Homo sapiens: one gene and its partners. The protein of the gene in region 1 interacts with the protein of each later gene in a biochemical or structural test. Each region holds a gene or a part of one and is shown in the gene's direction. Other genes may lie near its edges. The genes, in order: PRKCQ, RASGRP3 and SELL.

Region 1 (7,873 bases):
TGAGGTCCTCATGCCTGGTCCAGTCTTGCTAGGTGTGTTCTGCCGTGACCTCTCCTGGCATTGCTAGCCTCCTCCTACTCCATCCCTTCCCACATATACACTCCGGCTCCACCGTCTGATATCCATCTGCAGGCTGAGGCTGCCTCCTGGGCTTCAACCTAAAGGCTGGGGGAAGCTCTTCATGGCCCAGGTGGGAAAGGGGATGTTTTGGACCCAGACTGGAGTGGGCAGGAATATTCTTCTGATGCAGGGCAGGTGAGCCCCAAAGTGGGGCTTAGCCCAGGAGAGTTCTTGGCTTCGCCCAGGAAGAATTCAAGGGTCGGCTGTTGGTAGAAGAAAACAGCTTCATTGGCCAACGGTATTACAGTTCTGTTGGTGTTACAGCTCCATGACTGCTCCTGCAGAGCAGGGCTACCCCAGAGGCAGAGAGTAGCAGCTCAGGGCAGTGCTGCAATCCTATTTATACCACTTTTAACTACATGCAAATTAAGTTCCTGGAAAAAGGGTGGTAACGTCTGGGTGTTGCCATGGCAACACTAAACTGACATGGCACGCAGGTGGGCATCTTCTGGAAAGCTGCTTCTGCCCTGTCCCTGTTTTAGCTAGTCTTCAATTTGGTCTGGCGTCTGAACCCCACCTCCAGAGTTGAGTCCCACCTCCTACCTCACTTCCCTTCCAGCACGAGGATCACTACCAGGGAGAGCCAGGGTCAACTTCCTCCCAGCCGTGGCACTTTAGGCTTTCCTCCCTATCCGCAAGGCTCTGTCTTACCTCCAGAGAGAGTTGTTTAGCACCAGGGGGTTCTTCCACTCTTGCTCACTATCTGCCTTCTTCCTTCCAGCATGTGGCATGAATGTGCATCATAGATGCCAGACAAAGGTGGCCAACCTTTGTGGCATAAACCAGAAGCTAATGGCTGAAGCGCTGGCCATGATTGAGAGCACTCAACAGGTAGGAGCATGTGCCGTGGACACGTTCCCGCCATGGCCGCTCAGCAAGGATGTCCATGCACTTCTGCTGCTTCACCTGTGGCAGCCCTATGGGAAATGCCGGGATGTATTTCTGAGCACCGGCCTTGCCCTTGGCTTTCATATCCATGCCCACACCCCCTATCTTTGAGATATTTATTTAATGCATTTGTATTATGCAGATCTTTATAAAATCTTAAATTCTTCATGGCATGAGCATTGCAGAAACAAATAAATTCATTAAAGTTATTGAAGATTCATTGACAGCTTTATGTGAATATATTCGGGTTATAGAATAGCCTGGGGGAAAACACTTATGTGCTAGCATCATCCTCATGGAACACCGAGTCCAGGGCAAATTTGGCCTGCTGTTTACTGTTTTGGCATTAGCTGAATTCCTAGATCCAAGGATAAACCCTCTTTAAGACTTGGCATTGCCTGTATCAGCTGTTTTCCCATCCATTAACTACCTGTCCTTATTTGTGATGGAATGATGTAGACAGCATGAGAGAATCCTGTCAGCCCCAGAAAAGTGTGAAGGAGGCAAACGTGTTCGGCTAATGCATAAAATACAGTAGATAGACTCTCCCAGAATATGGGGTTCCAAAAGAACGTTGAGGATAAGGAGATCTTTGTTGACCCTATGCATTTAAACATTTTAAATGGCCTTTGTCCCCATCGTTAGCAGGCTGAGCTGTTCCATCAATGGTGGGTGGGTGGGTGGTCTGACTCTCTGTTTGTCATCCAGGCTCGCTGCTTAAGAGATACTGAACAGATCTTCAGAGAAGGTCCGGTTGAAATTGGTCTCCCATGCTCCATCAAAAATGAAGCAAGGCCGCCATGTTTACCGACACCGGGAAAAAGAGGTAGCTGTCCTGATCAGCAGTCTAATCACTGTCAGTCATTAATCTCAATTAACCCTAACCTAATGCCCTTGGATTTAAGTTATCAGCTTACCTGGTCTGATAGGTGATCCACCTCCAGCTACCAACTAAGAGGCTCCCACTTCTTAGAAAAGAAACTAAAACCTTTTACCTTTGTAAAAGGCAGGAGGTGGGGGTTAGAAAATGGGATAGGTCTGGAGGGAACAACCACAAATGTTTTCTTAGAGTTTCAGCATGTTACATTCTGTCAGTGTCAAATGGTTTCACAGAAATAAATCTGTCTTAAAATTTGATGGTGGGAAGGCCACAGAAGACATTCTTACTCTGCACCTTTGAGACTTAAATTTAAGGGTAGGAAAGAGAAGGACTCAAAGCCACTTTCATGACATTATGGCAGTTTTTCCAGCCTACTGTTTGAAAGCAGTTCATGAGTGGATATGACCCATGTTTCTGAGACCTGAGTCGTTTCAGCATACATTCTAAAATACTTAGTGTCCTTGGAAGAGTATGAAAGATAAACCTAGGGATTTAAAAATATAGAGACTATTGTAGGCAGGGGGAAATTCCTAAAAATTTCTCTTATGTTTTCTCTGACTTCAAATCAACTTAAAAATGTAAATGAAAGGTTTGGGTTACATTTAGGAGGGGTTGCCAGGCAGTCAAGGAGACTATGTCTTAGCAATGATCAACATAGGCAGCATCTTTTTTTTTTCTTTTTTGAAGACAGAGTCTTGCTCTGTGGCCCAGGCTACAATGCAGTGGCACAATCTCAGCTCACTGTAACCTCTGCCCTGTGGGTTCAAGGGATTCTCCTGCCTCAGCTTCCCGAGTACCTGGGACTACTTGCGCACACAACCGCACCCAGCGAATTCTTTGTATTTTAGTAGAGATGGGGCTTCACCATGTCGCCCAGGCTGGCCTCAAATGCCTGAGCTCAGGCAATCCGCCCACCTCGGCCTCCCGAAGTTGTCAGATTACATGTGTGAGCCACCATACCCGGCCAACGTAGGCAGCATCTTGACTTGAATTCTGGGATGAATGATGCAGTTCAGATCTTTAAAAATCTGCTAGATTTCATTTCCTGTCTCTCTCACGCTGTAAATTGTAGAAATTGATGCCACTGTGTTTGTGAGCCATGCAAACAATTGAAAATCATTTTTTTCCTAAAATTTGGTTAAAATCCCTAGATGTCCTTGATGTGGCATTATTAACAGTGCTTGTGTATTTTGCATATATGGTCTTTTACTGATTGGAATTTGTTTCTTAAGTTGAACTATTTCCCAGTCTATTGAAGAAAGAGACATAGTCCACACTCCAAAATCCAAATGCCAGGCTCACAGACAGGGGGTGCTGCCCTCACAGACAGATGGAAAGGTATTAAAGCTGCCTGAACTGTAGGAAACCCTCTAAACACCCCCAATTACTATGATGGAGCCTCAGCATGGGAAGTAGAAGAGAAAGCATGTGCTCTCAGTAACTAGAATGACCTCCATTACTCCATGTTCATTTTTAACCACCAGCTTGCATTTTCAGAGCCTCAGGGCATTTCCTGGGAGTCTCCGTTGGATGAGGTGGATAAAATGTGCCATCTTCCAGAACCTGAACTGAACAAAGAAAGACCATCTCTGCAGATTAAACTAAAAATTGAGGATTTTATCTTGCACAAAATGTTGGGGAAAGGAAGTTTTGGCAAGGTAAGCTAATGCACGGGAGAATGCTATGGCCCAACTCCAGGAACTGATGAGCCAAGTTCCTGGTCAAAGAAATTAAACTCATAGGGCCACTAGGATTGCATGTGAGTGTCAGAGACAGCTTTCCTGAGGGAGCGCTGAATAAATAGGGACCCCGAGGGCTCTAGGCCCATAGTAGCCTCAGCTTTCTGGAAACCTGTGTCTCCAAAGCTACTTTGCTTGGAGAGTGTACATCTCACACGCCTATGAGTTTGATGTCTTTGGGCACCAAAGAAATAGGAAGGTGCCTCAGCCACTTCCTGTTTCACACGGTGTTTGTGTTTGTTTCATTTTGTTTTCTCTTCTTTTGCTTCATTCTCAAGCCTGGAGTGTTGTTTTAGTTTGCATGTGATTTTTTTCTCTCTCTATTAAATATCTTCCAGCTTGTATAAGTTTCCTTGGGGTGTGATAGGGCTCGGCTCTGTGTCCCCACCCAAATCTCACGTTGAATTGTAATAATCCCCAGGTGTCATGGGAGGGACCCAGTGGAAGGTGATTGAATCATGGGGATGGGTTTTTCTGTGCTGTTCCCATGATAGTGAGTAAGTCTCATGAGATCTGATGATTTTATAAAGAGGAGTTTCCCTACACATGCCCTCTCACCTGCCACCACGTAAGACGTCCCTTTGCTCTTCCTTTGTCTTCCACCATGATTGCGAGGCCTCCCCAGCTGTGTGGAACCGAGTCCATTAAACCTCTTTCCTTTATAAATTATCCAGTCTCGGGCATGTCTTTATTAGCAGTGTGATAACAGACTAATACAGGCTGCTATAACAAAATCTCACATACTGGCTGGCTTAAACAGCAGAAATTCATGTTCTCGCAGGTCTGGAGGATGGAAGTTCACCATCAAGGTGTTGTCTGGGTTGTTTCTTCCCAGGCCCCTCTCCATGCTTTGCAATGGTCGCCCTCTCTCCATGCCTTCATATCATCTTCCTCCTGTGCATGTCTGCATCCAAGTGTTCTCCTTTTTTGAGATGACGTCTCACTGTGTTGCCCAGGCTGGTCTTGACCTCCCGAACCCAAGTGATCCTCCTGTCTCAGCTCCCTAGTAGCTGGGATTACAGTTGTGCCACCACACTCTGCTTAAATTTTCTCTTCTTGTGAAAACACCAGTCATATTGGATTAGGACCTGCCTTAATAACCTCATCTAACCTTAATTACCTCTTTGAAGGTCCTGTCTCCAAATACAGTCACTTTCCAAGGTCCTGGGGATTGGAACTTCAGTATAGACACAATTCAGCCCATAAGAAAACTGTAGCTTGAGAGTCCTGGAAAAAAATTGTGGAGAAAGTCCCTCCTCTAAATTCTTCCTGCCATACATGCAGGTGGGGGGTTGTCTCCATCACTCACAGATGACAAGGAGAGGAAGGAAAGAGGGAGAGGAGGAGCAAAAAAAAAAAAAAGGGGAGGTGAGAAGAAGGAAGAAGAGATAATTTAAGAAATTATAACCAACTACCGGTGACTGCAGAAAATTTTCAAGCTGGTGATTTAAGGAGGGATGATATGGAATATAGGCTTTTAGGTAATTTTTGATATTAAGGGTATCTCATGTATTAACGGGGCTCCTATTTGTTTTACATTCTTGGATGGGACTCCCAGGAAAATTTTAATCAGAGATGACTGTTCTATGAATCTGTGCAGCCAAAGGCAGCATTATACACCACAACTGCTCACCAGACTTTGGCAGGATGTCTTACCCAGTTTATTTAATATTAAACAAACTAAAATGCAACTGAGCGGTCACCACAGCTGAATAATATTGAGCTCCATTTGGGGTTTGGATTTAAACACTGATGCCTTGCCTTTCAGCAGAATCGACTCTGTCCAGCACATGGTAGCTGATATTCAGGAATTCTTTTTGTTCAGTTCCACAATAATATGAACCACAGTAGGCTCATTTGGTGCTAATCTGAGCATAATAGGCAATGTTACAGCCAGTCTTCATTGTAATTTAGCAGCAATTAATGTGCAATTATAACCTGTTACCAAAAATTGAAAGCACATTATATAGATGGAAATTGTCTTTTTGGCTTCTTAGTTTATGGCTGGTTTTAGGGTGTTTTACTGAAAGAAGCAATTACTAAAAGAGGACTTTTAATTGTTAATGAAATGTTTATCTTTCTTTGTTCCCATGTGGATTTCCACATTTGAATAAGGTTAATAAGGAAGACATTAAGTTAAACCTACAAGCCTTAGTCGGTATCCCAAGGTGCAGCTGGGAGCCCCAGGTTTCCCCCACTCCATGTCCAAAGCTGTCTACTTCTTTTCATCAGGACCCTGGGTCCCTATACACGGAGAGGAGAGGAGGGGGAGATATCAAAGCAAGACAGGATGGCTGTTTCTCTTTCTCACAACACTGAGAATACTCCAAAACTTGTCTTTTCTCTCTCTTCTGGCTTTATGTGGAAAGTATGTTTCCTCACCAAGACCTCTATACCCTTGTTCTCAAACAAATTTTAAGCCTAAGAAAACAAATTGTGTGTTCTCTGGGGATGTGAGCATCATTCATTTGCCTGAATTCCCATCTAAGTTTCATCCCTTCCCTTCTATCAAGTCAGCTACCATCAAGCTACGAACCTGCTCCGTCGCTTTTAAACCTAGACACTTACATGTTCAGGGCTGTTGTCACATCATTGACTTCGGCCTTTCCCAAAAGTCAATAACAGAAACAAATGACAAATGACTGAATTTTAGCAACTGTGATTCAGAGATCATTTTAGAGTCTACTTTCCCAGGTCTCATCTTACCTGACTTTCACAACAGTCCTGTAAGTTAGAGAATGCAGTAGTAATTGGAAACTGAAGCCCAGAGGGGCTAATTCATCTGCCCACATTTCCACAGCTAATAAATGTCTGTGAAATAAAACTAGAGCTAGAATTTTCTGTATCCAAATGCCATGCCCTTACCATTGCCAACAGTGTGTTGCTGCATCATTTGCAAAAACTAAAATTGTTGAAACCCTCCATCATATGCCATCTGGTGTCCTTTGATATAAGAGCCACAAAATCAAGTGGGAAAAGTAGATTTTGGAGTTAAATCTTCCCTCATAGCTCCAAGAATCTGAGCAAGTTATTCTTTGAACTCAGTGTTTGTTGTTGATGTTGTTAACTTCTGTCTTGCAGAGTGTGATGAGCTAAGAATTAAATTAGATAATACAATTAGGTCGTAAGTGTAAAGTAGGTAGCAGAGTGTATGACACACAGTAGGTCCTAAAATGTTTCATTCCCATTTTGGTGTCCTTTGATACGAGAGCCACGAAATCAAGTGGGAAAGTAAACTTCGGAGTTAAATCTTTCCCTAGTAGCTCGAAGAATCTGAGCAAGTTATCCTTTGAACCCAGTGTCAGTCACATTTTAGGACCTACTACATGCCATACATTCTGCTATGAATAATTCATTGCTGTGTTGTCAGAGAAAATGGTGTTTACTTATTTATTTTTTTTTATTTTGAGACACAGTCTCACTCTGACGCCCAGGCTGGAGTGCAGTGGCATGATCTCAGTTCACCACAACCTCCGCCTCCCAGGTTCAAGCAATTCCCCACCTCAGCCTCCCGAGTAGCTGGGACTACAGGCACCCACCACCATGCCCGGCTAATTTTTGGATTTTTTTTTTTTTTTTTTTTTTTTTTTTAGTCGAGACGGGGTTTCACCATGTTGGCCAGGCTGGTCTCGAACTCCTAACCTCAGATGATCTGCCTGCCTTGACCTCCCAAAGTGCTGGGATTATAGGCTTGAGCCACCGCACCTGGCCGGTGTTTATTTTTTAAGTACACAAGGAGAACTATATCCCTCCATTCTTCTTTTGGCCTGGAAAAACTGGGTAAAACGTAAAGCTAGGATTTATGTGCACTTGCAGTGATGTTTCGAGTACAGTTTCTCCTCTCCACACTCAACTCTTCTTTCTTCACTGTGCACTTTATCTCTCTGGATTTTTATTGTACCTTCACTCAGATCCCTGAGCAGGCAGGGCACACTTTTAAAAATCCATTCAATTGCTTAATAATTTTGTGAACCCTTGGAAAGAGTACAAAGATAGTATGAAATAGTGATGTCATGTCCGAAACCAGAGAAGTGCTCCATTTTGTCTCAGGAATGGCCTATGCAGGATGGATGGGGGTTGGAGAAGGAACCCCTTTTCCCACCCAACACAGGTGTCTCTCAGGACTCTGTCTCTTTTTTAAGAAATGGGAATCCAAATTCTAAAATAAAGTTACTTCTTCCCTCTCCTTCTAGGTCTTCCTGGCAGAATTCAAGAAAACCAATCAATTTTTCGCAATAAAGGCCTT
Region 2 (8,588 bases), on another chromosome or scaffold:
CAGCCTTATTTTTTACATCTTTAGGGCAACCTATGTTTACGTATGAAGTTAGTCTGTGGTTTTCTTTATTATGCTTTATCAGTTTTTTTTTTTAAGACAGGGTATTATGTTAGCTTTCTGTTACTTTTGTCCACTTGAACACTTCATATACCATGGGAGTTAATTCTGCTTGAAGCTCAGTTAGAACTTGATTGTGTAAGTAATCTGAACTAAGAGCTTTTTTTGGAAATAATTCCTTATTAACTTTTACATTTTTCCATGGTTACTGATCTGTTGTTTTTTGACTTCTTCCTGGGTCAGTTTGCTTCTAATTATTATTTTGGCTATGTCTCCCAATATTTGATATGTGGTATTCTCATCACTGAAACCTTCTAAGCATTCATTCTGTAATTGTGTTTTTAATTTATTCTCCAATCAATGATTTTTTTTTTTAAGAACTCTAAAGTTTCCCCAAGAGCGTGGGGTCTTTTTGACTTACACTTTTGTAATTAATGTATAGTTTTATTACAGTGTGATCACAGAATATGGCCAATTTCTTTTGGAAAGAAATTACTTACAATTTTTTTTTGGTAGCCTAATATAAAATCAAGTTTTGCAAACTTTTCTTATATTTTTTTCTTAATGGGCTAGACAGAAGATCCTTCTCTTTAATTATTCATTTATTCATCGAGGATTGTTTCCACCATGTGTCTCATACATGCCAGGCATTGTATTAGGCATTGCAGGATATAAAATAAGTCATAAGCTTTGTCTTAGATTGGTAAAGTTTGGATGGAACACAGACACATGTAGACCTAATTATAATACAGAAAGAAATGCAACCGCAGCGAAATGTACAAAAGCAGCAGGCAGCTAGAGTGGGAGTGAAGCCCTGAAGGTTCTGGGAATACAAAGTTGCCTACGATGGCCCGGAGGGGCTTTCAGTCCTAGCGTGTAAAACATACATTGAGATCAGAGACAGGCTTTTTGGAGGCAAGGTGATTAATTAGGAAATCACCGCAGACCTTCAGTAATAAATCAGAACATATGAGGGGCGGTAAGAGTGCAAGATGAGAAGAGAGGATTTTCACACCTAAGGGGCAGATAGCGGAAGAGAAGCCCAGACCTGAGGATGAAGGAGGTAGTAGTAAAATTTTATAGACGCCATGGGAGAGCTTTTCAAGGGGTGGTTGGTCAGTTGGGACAAATAGAGCCAAAAGGTCAAGTAAGATGGCTCACGCCTGTAATCCCAGCACTTTGGGAGGCTGAGGCGGGCAGATCACGAGGTCAGGTGTTCGGGACCATCCTGGCCAACATGGTGAAACCCCGTCTCTACTAAAAACATGAAAATTGCCGGGCGCGGTGGGTCACGCCTATAATCCCAGCACTTTGGTGACAGAGCAAGACTCCGTCTCAAAAAAAAAAAAAAAAAAGCAAAAAGTGTCGGTTGCCTTTGGTCTTTGGGGACTTGGAAAGAGCAGTTTCAGTGAAGTGAGGGAAAAAAAGCCAAGCCACAAGTAGGTTGAGAGTAAATGGGATGTGAGATGGTGAAGACAAGTATTTTTTCAGGAGTTTAGTTGTGGAGGGAATGCAGGAGTTAGGGCAGTAATTAAAAGAGCAAGTCTGGCTGGGGGCAGTGGCTCACGCCTGTAATCCCAGCACTTTGGGAGGCCAAGGTGGGCAGATCATGAGGTCAGGAGATGGAGACCATCCTGGCTAACATGGTGAAACCCCATGTTACTACTAAAAATACATGTCTCTACTAAAAATACAAAAAATTAGCTGGGCGTGGTGGCGGGTGCCTATAGTCCCAGCTACTCAGGAGGCTGAGGCAGGAGAATGGCTTGAACCTGGGAGACGGAGCTTGCAGTGAGCCGAGATCGCGCCACCACACTCCAGCCTGGGCAACACAGTGAGACTCCGTCTCAAAAAAAAAAGCAAAAAATCAGAAAGACTGTTGTTAGGATATAAAGACAATGTGAGAACGTGAGCATGTTTAGCTAATGAGCGCACGCTGAGAGCAAGAGAAGGCGTGGTTGTTGTCGAGAGTCCTAAGCAGGTGGGAGACACAGGGTGAGACACAAAGCCGAGGTAGGAGGTGGCCTCTTGACAGGAAGAGGGCACCTCTTCTTGAGTCGAAGACAATGCTTGGAACTGGTAGGGAGTGTGGGCAGAAAGATGGGATCTCCCCCATTTCTTTGCAAGGCTGTGTTATTGTAGAACCTTTAGTCACACTCCTGGACTCTGACTGAAAGGGTCCTGGGTCTTGGCCTCTGTGTTAACAGTTTGCTTCATAGGGAGGATTGAGGATCCATCCCTTCCTCTCCTGGCTATAGAACTAGAAAAGAACCTCTACACCAGTGGTCCCTAATGTATTTGGCACCAGGGACCAGTTTCATGGAAGACAATTTTTCCATGGACCGGGAATGAGGGGATGGAGATGATTTCAGGATGAAACTGTTCCACCTCAGATCATCAGGCATTAGACTCTCATAAGGAGCATGCAGTGTAGATCCCTCGCGTGCACAGTTCACAATAGTGTTCATGCTCCTATGGGAATCTAATGCCACAGCTGATCTGACAGGAGGCAGAGCTCAGATGGTCATGCTCCCTTGACTGCTGCTCACCTCCTGCTGTGCAGCCTGGCCTCTAACAGACCATGGACAGGTACCTGTCCATGGCATGGGGGCTGGGGACTCCTGCTTTACACTTATGATGTAGTTTGGATGTTGTGCCCACCCAAATCTCATGTTGAGATGTAATTTCCAGTGTTGGAGGTGGAGCCTGGTGGGAAGTGATTGGATCTTAGGGGCAGATTTCTCATTAATGGTTTGGTACCATCCTGTTAGTGCTGTTCTCATGATAGTGAGTGAGTTCTTTTATTTATTTGTTTATTTTAAGACAGAGTCTCACTCTGTTGCCCAGGCTGGAGTGCAGTGCAGTGGTGCGGTCTTGATCTTGGCTCACTGCAACCTCTGCCTCCCAGGTTCAAGCACACCACCACGCCCGGCTAATTTTTGTATTTTTAGTAGAGACAGGGTTTTGCCATGTTGGCCAGGCTGGTCTCAAACTCCTGACCTCAGGTGATTCACCCTCCTCAGCCTCCCAAAGTGCTGGGATTATAGGCATGAGCCACAACACCCAGCTGATAGTGAGTTCTGGCAAGCGCTGGTCATTTAGAAGTGCCCCCTGTCTGTCTTGCTGCTGCTCTGGCCATGTGACTCATCTGCTCCCACTTTGCCTTCCACCATGATTGTAAGTTTCACGAGGCCTCCCCAGAAGCCGAACAGATGCCAGTATCATGCTTCCTCCATAGCCTGCAGAACCATGAACCAATTAAACCTCTTTTCTTTATAAATTACCCAGTCTCAAGTATTTATAGCAATGCAAGAATGGACTAATACAACTTAACTTTCCTGAGGCTGTTGTCGCTGTTGGGCATTGAAGAGTTTCTAGAAGTCCCTGTTTCTTTATGTGGCATGCAATGGATCATCAGAATAATTAACCCAGTCAATGGTAAACAAAGTGATGGATGGATGCCATCAGATCACAAAAGTTTCTATTACTGTAAATACAAGGGGGTAAGTAAATCAAAATAATGTTTCAAATCCTCAGTAGGCCTCTTTTTCTGTTTCTAATTGAAGATTGTCACATCAACACATAAACAAAAATGCCTGTGAGGGAAATGTGTATTTTATGCATTGCATTTTTATATCTGAAGTTTATTTCTATTACTAACTTGAAATGCTGAGGAAGGGATTTGTTTTGGTGCTTACAAAATTCTCCCATTTGCTCTTCGGACTCTCACAAGTTGACAACAAATTACTGCCCTGATAGTATGGTGAGACTGAGGGTTTTTTGTCTTTTTCTCTTATTCTAGAAAACACTGTATCCTCTATATGGAGGGAAATTTCTGGTTTGATTAACACTGTAAATAATTATGAGACAAAGCCTAAATATAAAAGATTACTCACACAGGCTCTTACACTGAGTAAGATATTATGTGTTAAAAATCAGGGTTAATAGTTTAACAGGCACATTATGGTTCAGAAATCCCCTGGGGGACTTCAACCATCTTTTCTGGATGTTCACTTTGCCAAATAGGCTGCCTCTATGTCATATCTCTACCTGAAGGGCAGGCTCAGACACTGATTCGGGGAAGTGTCACCCTTACTATACCAAGAAGTCAGACATCCAAGGTCAGACACTACGTAAAGTCAGATACTTCAAGGGCTTTCCTTGGAAGGGAGGATGAAAAGGGAAGGGTGGGAACATCAGCTCAGGTGAGACATATGAATTCAACAAAACATCAGGGATGGTTTGCCACGTTTGCGAGCAGCACAGAAAACGGCAGTTTGCTCCAAGTTCCCAGCACACCAAAGGGGGCAGTAGTGCGTCTGTAAAGCGCGTTGTCAACTTGGTGATAATTTCTGTTTGCATTCACACTCGCCGGCTGATAATCTCAGCTGCTCGATGCAATTCAACAGATAACAATGCGGAAGTTTGGTCTAAAGCTACCTGAAATCACTTCCAAGAGCTCTTCAGATAAAGCTGCCTTTGATAGTCTTCATTAACCCCTCCCATATTTGCCCCTCAGCGTCCCTTGGCTTAGCAGCCCCGGCCTTTGAAGTCCAACCTAAGCATTCTTAGATGGTGAGTGAGGGTCTGCCTTCCCCAGCACCAGCCACCTAGTCAGGCTTGTGGCTCGTCTAACAAACTGGAGCCTGAGATTCTGAGAAAACGAAACCAAACAGTTGTACTCCGGGGTTAACACAGAGCAACTTCCACCTGCTGTGCGAGTTGGTGATCCTCTCTCTTGCCGTTCGAGAGCCCCAGTGAAACTTGAGTGAGATGAGAGAGCATGGAGCCTGCCAGTCTCCCCCTCTGCGCACACACACACGCAAACACATTTAACTTTCCACTTGCAGTGACCTGCCCTTCAGTGTGACTTATCAGCTGTTTGGCTTTTGTCACTAAAGGAAAACAAATTGTGGAATATCCCGCTCTGCATGCTCATGAGATGGCTGAGCCAACTCAGGGGTTATGAGGTGGTTTGCGAGTGAGGAGAAGAATGATCTTCAGTTTCTGACCTCCTGGCACGGTGGCGGGCGGTATTTATCAGGAGGTACATGTGACTGGTTAAGACTCAGAGCCCCAGCTTGAAGGAAACAGCTGCTCTCGGCGTGCTCCGGCACTTGGCAGCTGGACAGGCAGAGTGCTGATGTGAAAAATACCACGACAAAACCACCCTAGTAAGTAACTGGAGAACTTTCCTCTCTCTCTCTCTCTTTCATTCCCTCTCCGTGTGTGTGTGTGTGTGTGTGTGTGTGTGTGTGTGTGTTGCAAGCCACCAACAACTTTTGATTTTGATTTTGGTTTCCCTCTGGCACGATAGAAGGAGATATTTTATTTGTACCTGTTAACAGCCATTGGTGTTTTCACAGCCCTTTTTTAGAACCTGTTATTTTCGGCAACGTGTCTTGTAACTTTGAGGATGAATGGGGCATATGGCTTCATTCCTGTCTAGGAAACAGAAAGTTTGTTTCCCAGTGTTCAAGATTTTTCTAGTCCATGGTGTTTAGGTTCAAAGTCAAGTTCAGGTTATGAAGTAGAGACTTCATTGAAGTGAGTTGATGACTAGATTTGATTTTAATCTGTTTCTACCACTGAAACCTGAAAACGTAGTTGTTTAAAGTAACTTGTGAATTTATTGTATGGCTGATTTGATTTTTCCTATTCAATTTTTGAGAATATCTCATTTAACTGTGTAGAACTGTCTGCAATATAGAAGACTGACAAAATAATATTTAGATTCACATTAGAAATCATATTTAGATTTCTTGCATGGTTTCCAACTAATTGAAAGCTGTATTTTATAGCGACTTTTTTTCCCCCCAACAAGCTAATTCACCTTCATTACTTTAAAATGTTCAGTTGCCCCTGGTCTTCCTTCACCTTCATTACTTTAAAATGTTCGGTTGCCGCTGGTCTTCCTTATTTTAGTGTTTTCGTGATACTCAGGCTGTTTTTTCCTTGTTTATGACCTGACTGGGAAAGTGCTGCCTGCAGCTGATGATTAACTCTGGGAGGCCTGGCATCCAAATTACGGAGAGAACCGGCTCCTTCTCAGGTTCATTCAGCAGTAATGGTGCTTGCGCTTGGGCGAGCAGCAAAGCAGGCACCATGCTGGAACTGAGCTGTTGTTCGGTGACTTTTGTCCTTCCTTGGTAGTCACCAGACAGAATGCTTCAGAGGAAAGGCAAAAGGGGAAAAGAGAGAGGGCAGAGCTCTAAACTGATGACGTAAAGCTCTGAAAGTGACAGGTCTTTGAATCAGAGGCTGCAGGGAGATAACCAAACAGGTTCCTGTTTCTGGAGATCGCGTGGATCTTGAGGAGGGTGGGCAGAGAGGGGCTGTTTTTATTTGAAGTCTCACCAAATAGTTGTTTTGCTTGTGATAAGCCTAGGACAACCTGGAGTGCGCTTGTTTCCTCGTGTGACAAATGGATTCTCATACAGGCTCAAGCTATACGGTTTTCTTTCGCCCTCTGCCCCCTGCCATGAGGGAACACTGTTCTCTCCCCACCCTTACCATCCTTTGTTGTTTGTGGAGAATGGATTAAAAATGACCCAGGGCACGGCACTTCTGCGATCGAGTTTCCCTCAGCACAGTGGGTCTTGAGTACCGCACCAACCAATGTTCTCTGATGGAAGCAGTTTCGGATGCCCTGTCTAAACAAATGGCTAGTCTGACATTGAGAAGTTCTCCACCTTCTTTTCCTTCAAATGTAGAAGAATCCACAAAATGTAGAGTGGCCAATGAGGAAAAATAGTCCCAACTTCTCTGTTCCTCGGTATGGCATTTGTGTGAGGTCCTTGGGTCAGCCCGCGGCCATGTGGTCTGTGACTTCCCTGTCTGACTGCTGGGGGAGGGGGTTCCTCCTGAGTCATTCTTTAGGGAGTTTGTTCCTGGTATAGTTTCAGATTTTCCACAGGTTGATAGTGGAAGAGAACCCTCTGGTGAAATTGTGTCTCCGGAATCATCGAGCCTCCCATAATAAAATGGAATGTCTAAATGGGAGCAGTTGAATTATCCAACTGCTGTATTTTTGAGAGCCAACAGGCTCCTTTGAAAAACCCATGCCTTTTCAAAATATTAATAGCAAAATAATAAAAAATAATGATTTTACTTGCAGATAGTACATCCATTGACTCAAAGACTTTTTGACCTGGATAGGAATGATAGAATGTGCGATTTAACTCTTTCGTATCAAAGATGAGGAAACTGTAGCAAATTTATCGGAGTTACGGTGCAGAGCCAGAAGAGAGAGCTCAAGGCTTCCATCATAATTTCAACGCTAATAACAATCCCTTACTTTTATTGTGCACTTACTCTGCCAAATGATGCGCTAAACAAGTGTATTTATTTTCATAGTCTCCTCACAATAACTCTATGTGTTACATATTATTATTCCAGTTCTATAGATAGGAAACTGAGGTTCTTGACCATACGTAACACAGACAGGAGGGACACCCTTAGTTACTTGACCATATGTAACACAGACAGGAGGGACACCTGGATCTGACTGTAGAACCTGTATACATTAAAAAATAAAAGTGGAATCCCACACATTTAAATGTAAAAACTCACAACATGCAAATGAGAGTATTTCCAGCACAATATGATTACACACACAATGTGTGTTATGCCCTTTTCGAGCTCTCCATGACAGGAAGGGCTAGGTTTCCCCCTGTGACAGTCCAAGCCCAAGCTCTCTCTATAGGATCGCTGGCTGGTGGCATGTTTTTCTCTTTGAAAATAGTTCAGTGACGGTCTTGATGTTGGTAAGAACAGCAACCGGGAACTTTGTTATTAACCTCCAGCACACGGCTCCCATGCCCCTTCTGGCCTTTCCCTCCAGTTTTCCTGTCACTCCTTTCCTTTGGAGGACAGCCACTCCACCCATGCCCCACCCCAAATAGCTGGCTTAGTGTTGATAAAGCTATTATCAGACCCATCCCCTTTGCTCAGCCTGGAAGGTTGGTTGTCCGAGTAGGTTGTTGATGAATAGAAACCATGCACTCTGCCACTCTGCGCTGTTTTTTTGAGCTGTGGGTGTAAGGGGTGGGTCACGGGGCAGGGGACTAGCTGGCAGTGGTGAGGGAGGAGAGGTATGCTTTTCTTCACTGCCTGCACCTGCCATTTACCCTGAGTCCTACTTCTCCACACACCAGTTGCATATCTAAAGCTCTGACTGTCTCACGGGTGGGCCATAAACCTGTGGATTTTCTGGGTCATCAGACTTGCAGAGCCCTTAAGAAACCTGCCTCCTGAATCCTTTTAAAAATGTCATTTGGCTGTCCACATTCCTCCACTTTAGGTTAAGTGTCAAAATTAGGGTTGGAGATAATGGGAAAGAGCACCAGGTAGTATGTAATCAACAGGGAACCTTTTATTAATCAGGAGGAAAATCAAGCAAGTATGCCATGTGTGGATGTTTCTGAGGAAGTTATCAGTGTTTCTGCAAGGTCGTTCTGGCAAGATTACACATTTTGAAGATCAAGCTATTTATAGCATGAAAGAGGAATTTTTTTTTTTTTTTTTTTTGA
Region 3 (7,873 bases), on another chromosome or scaffold:
TTTATTTTTCCTGAAGTTGTATTAGGCTTTTAGCTCTTCTCTGTGTTTCAGAGTTCCAGTCATTGAACAAGTCCATGGAGCTAAATACAACGATGACCATTCTTGCCAACATTTTTAGGTGCATTTTCAGGAACTCTATGAACCACAAATCTGGGCATTGAGATTCTGTAGGCATTAGACTAGCAAGGCTGGTCCAGTCTTTGCCTATGCTGTAGACTCATCAGGGGCCTTCCCATGCCAGTTTCCTCATCTGTCAAATGGCATCAAATGGGCTACTACTGGGAGATGTAAGGAGGAAAAAAGTCAAATATCATGAGATAGACTAAGGAAATAATGCTGGTGGTCTCATGCTATGTGCCTTACTGATTTCTCTTTCAGAATTGGACAAAAGTTTCTCAATGATTAAGGAGGGTGATTATAACCCCCTCTTCATTCCAGTGGCAGTCATGGTTACTGCATTCTCTGGGTTGGCATTTATCATTTGGCTGGCAAGGAGATTAAAAAAAGGTATGTGAGTTTAACTTCACATGAAAAGAACACAACTTTAAAGTGAAAAAGAAAAAAAAAAGAAACCCACAGGAAATTAAATGTGATAGATTCAACACAAGCAGGATGCCAAGCTTTACATTCTAGAGCCATCAGTCCCTGGAGACATGTAAATCAGCCCAGGACACACCTTCATTAAAACAGGTTGGCTGATTTTCGCTTTTCATCTGATAAACTTTTAAAAATGTCTATTACCTTCAAGGCAGCTTGCTAGGCTGATAACAACTAAGTGAGATATTCTAATGGTTCTTTGCTCTTATGTAATTCTTTAATACTTTTTTTTTTTTGAGACAGAGCCTCACTCTGTCACCAGGCTAGAGTGCAGTGGTGCAATTTCAGCTCACTGCAACCTCCGCCTTCTGGGTTCAAGCTATTCTCCCACCTCAGCCTCCCAAGTAGCTGGGACTACAGGAGCGTGCCACCATGCCCAGCTAATTTTTTGTATTTTTAGTAGACACGGGGTTTCACTGTGTTAGCCAGAGTGGTCTCGATCTCCTGACCTCGTGATCTGCCTGCCTTGGCCTCCCAAAGGGCTTGGATTACAGGTGTGAGCCACCACGCCTGGCCTGCTCTTAATTAATTCTGAAAAAATGACACACTATCTCTGTCCTCTAAGAGCCTACATGCCTTGGATTTCAATGCTACAATTCCACTAGGAAGTGGGTCTAATGTCCACTAAGGTTTCAAGGCACTGCTCCCAAATACCTGACCTCTTCAAGAGTCACCTGGTTCCCAACACATGGGCATTGCATTAACCCTGGGAGAAATTCCCATGTATTCTCCCAAGTATCTATTCACCAAGGCCACAGCTCTAACCAAATGCACCATATATGCTTTCCAACCATCCGTCACTGGAGAGGAAAAGAGAAGGAGGACTGCCTTGAGAAGTTAACATCTGCTGCCCAGATTATCACTCCCTTTACCTTAAGGCATGAGTGTGTCTCAGCTTTAAAGTGTGAGCAACCCACTAGCCTGCAGCAGGCCTTGGGTGTATGGTGCCACATTTGGCCAAACTCACCTGGAAGAACCATTCAAGGCTGTAACATTCATGGACATTGGGCAGCTTTTAAGATATACCTGTTTTGGCCAGGTGTGGTGGCTCATGCCTGTAATCCCAGCACTTTGGGAGGCCGAGGCGGGCGGATCATGAGCTCAGCAGTTCAAGACCAGCCTGGCCAACATGGTGAAACCCTGTCTCTACTAAAAATACAAAAATTAGCCAGGCGTGGTGGCGGGCACCTGTAATCCCAGCTACTCGGGAGGCTGAGACAGAAGAATCACTTGAACCCGGGAGGCGGAGGTTGCAGTGAGCTGAGACCGCACCATTGCACTCCAGCCTGGTGACAGAGTGAGACTCTGTCTCAAAAAAAAAAAAAAAAAAGATATACCTGTTTCAAGTTCAGGGATGATCTCGAAACAATTGCTAACCAACTGCTCTGTGTTGCCTTTCTGTGGGCTCAGTTGATTGTCATTTTAATTTTCCTTCCATCAAATTAGTTAGTACGTATTCTGTTCACTGAATATGGTATGTAAAGGTTGCCCCCTGTCCATTTACACTGGCAATTACAAAAATATTATTTATCAGTCCCTAATTGCGTGCCACTCTGATCTTATCTTTCATTTAAATTTGAGAATAGTGGGCGCTAGGTAAGTTTTCTAACCAATCCAGAAAGACAAAGTGTGTGAGGGGGGTGGGGATTGTTGATATGCAAGAACTTCATTAGCTATGTATAACCTGAGAGCACTGAGCAGTTAAAATGTCTCTGCCCTTGCTATTAGAAATTCTGTGCTGATTGAATCTCACTATCTTATAGTATTATACAGTACTAAGTACTATACAGTACTAAGTATAAGTATCAAGTACTGCATTAAGGCAAAAGAAGAATGACAGTTTTCTCCAACCACTGATTATTCTTTCCATTGAGACTTCAAATCTTGACCCCGGTTGTCCTGTCTTTCTTCCTACCTTGGGCGATGATGGCAGAACTGACGGATAGAGAACAGGGTGGGTTATTACACACTGCCCCCTGGGATAAGGTGGCTATTGTCTAAATAATTTTAAGGACTTTGGGGCTGTAAGTCACCTTAATAAGGAAGCTATTTATTTCCGAATTCTAAAATCTTTTAATAAGTGTTTGTAGAATCAAAAGAATAGAATCAAACTCATTTGCATGTAGTGAGGGGTTAGCTGGCTAAGGCTGTTTTATAAGCAAGGGTAAAAAAATTAGAGGGGTTGTTTTTAAATTTTTTACCTTGGAGTCATTTCTGTACAAGATCTCAAACCGATAACTTGAAAACTGCTGTGGGAATCAGTGTGGGGCAAACAGGAAACAGATAACGGGCAGTTAGGCTAGTTACAGTTATGCCAACAAAGAAAACAGAAGCCCCAAAAGATCACTGGCTTGGTAGGAAGCTTAGGGTATCTTTAAGATAACATTAAATAGTCTTCATCTGTGGGCCAGGCACCTTGGCTGTCACCTCTAATCCCAGCACTTTTGGAGGCTGAGGCAGGAGGATTACTTGAGCCCACGAGTTCAAGACCAGCCTGGGCAACATGGCGAAACCACATCTCTACAAAAATACAAAAAATTAGTCAGGCATGGTAGCATGCACATGTAGTCCCAGCTACCCAGGAGACTGAGGTGGGAGGATCACTTGAACCCAGGAGGTCAAGGCTGCAGTAAGCCATGACAGCACCACTGCACTCCACAACAGAGTGAGGCCCTGTCTCAAAAAAAAAAAAAAAAAAAGTCTTCATTTATAAAACAACATCTTCCATTTTCACCAACTTACAAATGATTCTGCTTTCCAAAGATTTTAGTTGTAGGTTGGTCCTTTAAAACATGAAGAGTATTTTTCCTATGGAGGCAATGGTAGAAATAATGGCTACATTCCCAGGCTAAATCTAAGACAAAATATAGTTAATGGCATTTACAAGGATAAAAGTAAAAAGTCATAAATCTCTATGTGTGTGTTTAGGTGTGTGTGTGTGTCTATGTGTGTGTGTATATGTATATATATACACAGAGAGAGAGAGAGAGAGAGAGAGAATTTATAGGCTTTTTGGGTTCTAATAGTTAGAAAAAGGGCACAGGTAACTATTTAGAGCATGGTAGCCAATGAAGTGACTAGAGCCTTCACCCCTATTCTTCTGTCCTCAGATGAATCTTCTGACTCTAGCACTTTGTCCCCTGCCCTAGTAGTCTTAGTATGGAGACTTTCCCTCCTTTCTTTTAGGAAAGGAATAAGGAACAGTTCCAGAAACATGTGTCCTTGTGCATGGGCTCATCTAGACACATTTTGTGCACCAGGCATTATCATTTTCTGATTAGTCACTACCATTGGCCCTGTTTGGTAAATAAGGAAACCAGGGCAATGATGTTTTAGGCCAAATCTCAAAAATACCATATCAGCAGGACCCAGAGTCAGAGATTAGACTCCAGTCCAGATACATCTTCTAAAATCACTGGTCTTCAGATTTGTGAACTGGTTTTTTCCTCGGTTGGAAGAATTTCCCACCAGAACCAACACACAGGGTTAGACCAGGGCATGAAACTGAACACATGCCCCCTTAGTTCCTTTTTCTTCAAAATGAAACTCTCTCAGTAGGAACAGATTCTTACTCATCTATTGCTGTTAGGTTCATCATCCCTAAAAAAAATATTTATGTGAAGCTAACCAGAATCTGAAATTAATTCAGATTTGATTCCCCCTGCTCAAGTGCACTTGGTCATCAGCAGGCTGAATTTTAGAAGAAAAGATTTCAAATAGTAGTCTTTAATACTTTAAAGGATTAAAACAGTAATGCAACACTGTCTACGTGCTAGGACCTGAACTAAATACTTGGAAATATTTTATTTTATCAACCCAATGAGGATGATACAATTATTATGCCTCTTTAACAGATGAAGAAATTGTAGTTTAGAAAAGAAAGTAGCTGTTCAAATACACACTACACTACAGGTGGCAAAATAGGGCTTTCACCTGGGTAGGATGATTCTAGAATGCCACTTTACAGCCACTGAAATATATTGCCTCCCAAATGATTCTTTCTGCTCAAAGAGTTTTTTTTAAGTTATCTACTTATTTATATTCTGCTTTTTTCAAAAAGAATGTGAGAACAGTACAAAATGTGTTCAGTATAGCAAATTAAAATTAATTAAAAAGTAAGAAAAAGAAGCCAATTTGGGCAACCCACTCGGGTCCCCTTCCACGCTGTGGAAGCTTTGTTGTTTCGCTCTTCGCAATAATAAATGAGCTTGATGTTTTATTGAGTACAAAAAAAAAAAAAAGAAAGCCAAATTTAAACTTAGGGTACAAAAATCATTTGGAACCAAGGTTGAAGTTATGGCACAAAAATGTATGTCACAAAGTTTTATATACTTGGTAGGAGAGGGTCTCAGATCTAGCTCTGAGTTTCCTTACAGCCAGTCAAAGGAGAACCATGTGATATTCCTTGTGTTTGTAAGATAAAAACACATTAGTTACTCAGATGAGGCTGCACAATTCCTACCAACAAGACCAAAGTGAAATTCTCTTGTGGATTCTCATAGAGATGATGCTGTGAGCTGTAATGGCACATAGTTTTACAGTATTAGCAGCTGTCCCTCAAGGGAAGAATCTGCAGGTAGGATGAGATGGCAGATTGGGAAGGGATAAACACTTGAATGGACATATTGGGTCTTGCCACCAGGCAATTTAGCAATTCTGTCTTCTTGAGTAGCACGGAGAATGGAATGGAACCTCAGGAGGCATCTGCATCAACATGTCTGTTCTGTATTAGTGTCTACCACTGTTTATTAAGCCAGTTCCTCAAATCTCCTTTGACACAGATAGGGTCCACCTAACAAATACCTAATATACTTCAAAAGACAGTTTTGAGAGTGGGAGTCTTCCTTCTCCCTTACTTGAAAAACTTTAAATTGTCTAATTTTTGCTAATGCCTTTTCTCTATTTTCTATTTTCAGGCAAGAAATCCAAGAGAAGGTAAGTTTTATTAGTGGCGAGGAGTTTCCACATCTGCTGATTCATTCTCTACTTCCTTAAGTTACTTCCTGCTCTAGCTAGACACATTAACCCCATAGTAGTTTATTTACCTGGGGTCCTCATCCAAATGACCAGATAAGGTGATAAATCTACTAGCTTCCTTTCAGAGCTGTGCTTTTTGGTGCTAGTGGAGCTGAATGAATGAATGAACGAACAAGTAATCCCTATTAGAAAAGGGCAGTTTATGTAAAGGGAGATTTTTCTGATTACCTCAGAATTTTTTCTGAGGGTTAAAAACATTGTGGTGTGTTCTTCTTGTTCTTAAATATATTATTTAAGAAATATTCAATTGAACAAGCACTTATTGAGAAATGAATAAATGCTTATTCAATTGACTATTTGCATTCAATTGCTCTAACAGGCATTGTCCTTCAGAAATGTGGGAAAGATAGGGAGCATGAATTCTACCTACAGCTTCCCCAAGGAGGCAAGTATTTTTCAGTTTGGTCTTGAAGCTCAAATTTCTTCTACTGGAGAAATAGCACAGTGGGAGGAGATGCAGACATGTGAAAGTTGATGGCCCACCTGGCAGAAATGAAGATGGAAAAATATTTCTCAGTATCTAGGGTTTAGTGACTTGCTCTGGAATTTTAGGAAGGAGAGTTTAAGTAAAATAAACTATGAAAGGAGGACTTTGGTGACATATTCAGTACCCAGCTGGACAACTGAGCTTCCTTTAAAATGCTAGAAATGAAGTGAGATGATTTCTGAAGGGATTGGATGCTGGTTTGGGCAACCATCCTACCAATCACAAACTTAGTATGGGCCATTGCTTAGAATGCAAAGGAAAAAGTGGGGAAAAATGAGGCACCAGAAGCCAGATCATAAACTAATGTATAAGCCATGTGATATGGGCTTTATCTTGAGGTCTTTTGGGATATCACTAAAGGGGTTTAAACAGTGAGTAGCCTTACCTCTGGCATCTTATAAGGTCACCCTGCAGAGCAGTATGGCAAGTGTGGGAGACAGGTGAGCCTGGATTCAAAGAGACTTGTTTTGGAGGCATTTGCAGTTATTAGATTAAAACCGATGGCGCCTGTCTAGGGAACTAGTAGTAAGAATGGGTTCATGAAATAAGAGGAGGTGATATTAACTGAATGTGTCTGTTAATTGGCTAAAAGTGAGAGAGAAGAATCAAATTATCATCTTTCTCACCTGGAAACTGGCGGATGGTAGTCCTGTTTACTTCTGAGAAGGGAACATAAAAGAATGAGAGGTTTTGGAGGTAAAGATCATGGGTTCAGTTTTGTACTGAGCTTTGGGTGTATGCACATCATTCACTGTGGCTCATTGGACCTATCCAAAGCACAGAGGCTATGGCAGGAGAAGTGGATTTGGGTCCCTCACATTTCAGGAGGTAACTGCCATCTCAGGAGTGGGTACTATCATCCAGGGAGGGTGTGAGTGCTTTAAGAATGGAAGAGGACCTGGGAGAGAGTATGGGAGCCAGAGGAACATCATTATCTAATAAGTCACCTAAGGGAAAGAGAAATGAAAAGATGTTGCCAGGCAGGGAGAAGGAAGAGGAGAAAGAGTGTGGGGTAATGAATGCCAAGGAAACAAAGAAAGGGGAACGGTTTCAAACATTGCCAAGAGAACCAGTAAGTATCCCCTGGATGCAACAAGGGTGTCAGTGGGGAGACTATTTGCAGTGCAGACATCAAGACAGAGGTCAGACGGCCAAGCATTGAGCATTACTGAGGATGAGAAAGTAGAGACAGAACAAGCAGTCATCTCTTTTAAAATGTTTGGCTGTGAAGGAGAAGTGGGGCAGGGGTAACTGGATGAGGATGTACGATCAGTGGAGGTTCTTTTTATTCTTTTTAATTACTCTGTCTTCTCTTTACTAGTGCAAATGGAGTCTAGTGAGGAAAGGCTTCTTTCTCTGGGCTGGTCTCCCTATGTCTGTGGCAGGAAACCCACAGATGTGAAGATTTCTTTCAAACTCGCACCTACTGAGTGAAAGTATTTTCTGGCACAATCTACCCAGAGCTGTTTTCTGGCTACCGGAACCACCTGTTTTAATTGCCACTAGATGGAAGCAGATCAACTAGATTTTTTTTTTTTAAGATGTCCTTGAGGCACAGGAGGAGAGACTGGCTGGAAGAATATTAGCAAAAAGCTAATTACCATGCTAAGCAAATTGCTATATTAAGTTTAATGGTTCACTGATTTTTTATAATCAGTCAATTAATAGTTGTTTATTGAACATTTTTGTGTTGGAAACTGCTAAGCTTTCTTGAGACAGCAAGAGGAGTCAGCCTGGTCCCTGATTTCAGGA

Evidence for each region.
Region 2: of the proteins of PRKCQ (region 1) and RASGRP3, one has a biochemical effect on the other in vitro, tested with the Homo sapiens proteins (one study listed by BioGRID).
Region 3: the proteins of PRKCQ (region 1) and SELL form a complex in vitro, tested with the Homo sapiens proteins (one study listed by BioGRID).

Annotation. Positions count from the first base shown.
Region 1 is NC_000010.11:6,479,113-6,486,985, reverse strand, and holds part of PRKCQ (protein kinase C theta type), read left to right. Parts: intron 1-841; coding exon 842-951; intron 952-1,716; coding exon 1,717-1,834; intron 1,835-3,385; coding exon 3,386-3,546; intron 3,547-7,820; coding exon 7,821-7,873. UniProt on the Homo sapiens protein: Calcium-independent, phospholipid- and diacylglycerol (DAG)-dependent serine/threonine-protein kinase that mediates non-redundant functions in T-cell receptor (TCR) signaling, including T-cells activation, proliferation, differentiation and survival, by mediating activation of multiple transcription factors such as NF-kappa-B, JUN, NFATC1 and NFATC2.
Region 2 is NC_000002.12:33,471,477-33,480,064, forward strand, and holds the start of RASGRP3 (ras guanyl-releasing protein 3), read left to right. Parts: upstream 1-5,172; 5' UTR 5,173-5,231; intron 5,232-8,588. UniProt on the Homo sapiens protein: Guanine nucleotide exchange factor (GEF) for Ras and Rap1.
Region 3 is NC_000001.11:169,694,194-169,702,066, reverse strand, and holds part of SELL (L-selectin precursor), read left to right. Parts: intron 1-378; coding exon 379-507; intron 508-5,513; coding exon 5,514-5,532; intron 5,533-7,873. UniProt on the Homo sapiens protein: Calcium-dependent lectin that mediates cell adhesion by binding to glycoproteins on neighboring cells. Mediates the adherence of lymphocytes to endothelial cells of high endothelial venules in peripheral lymph nodes.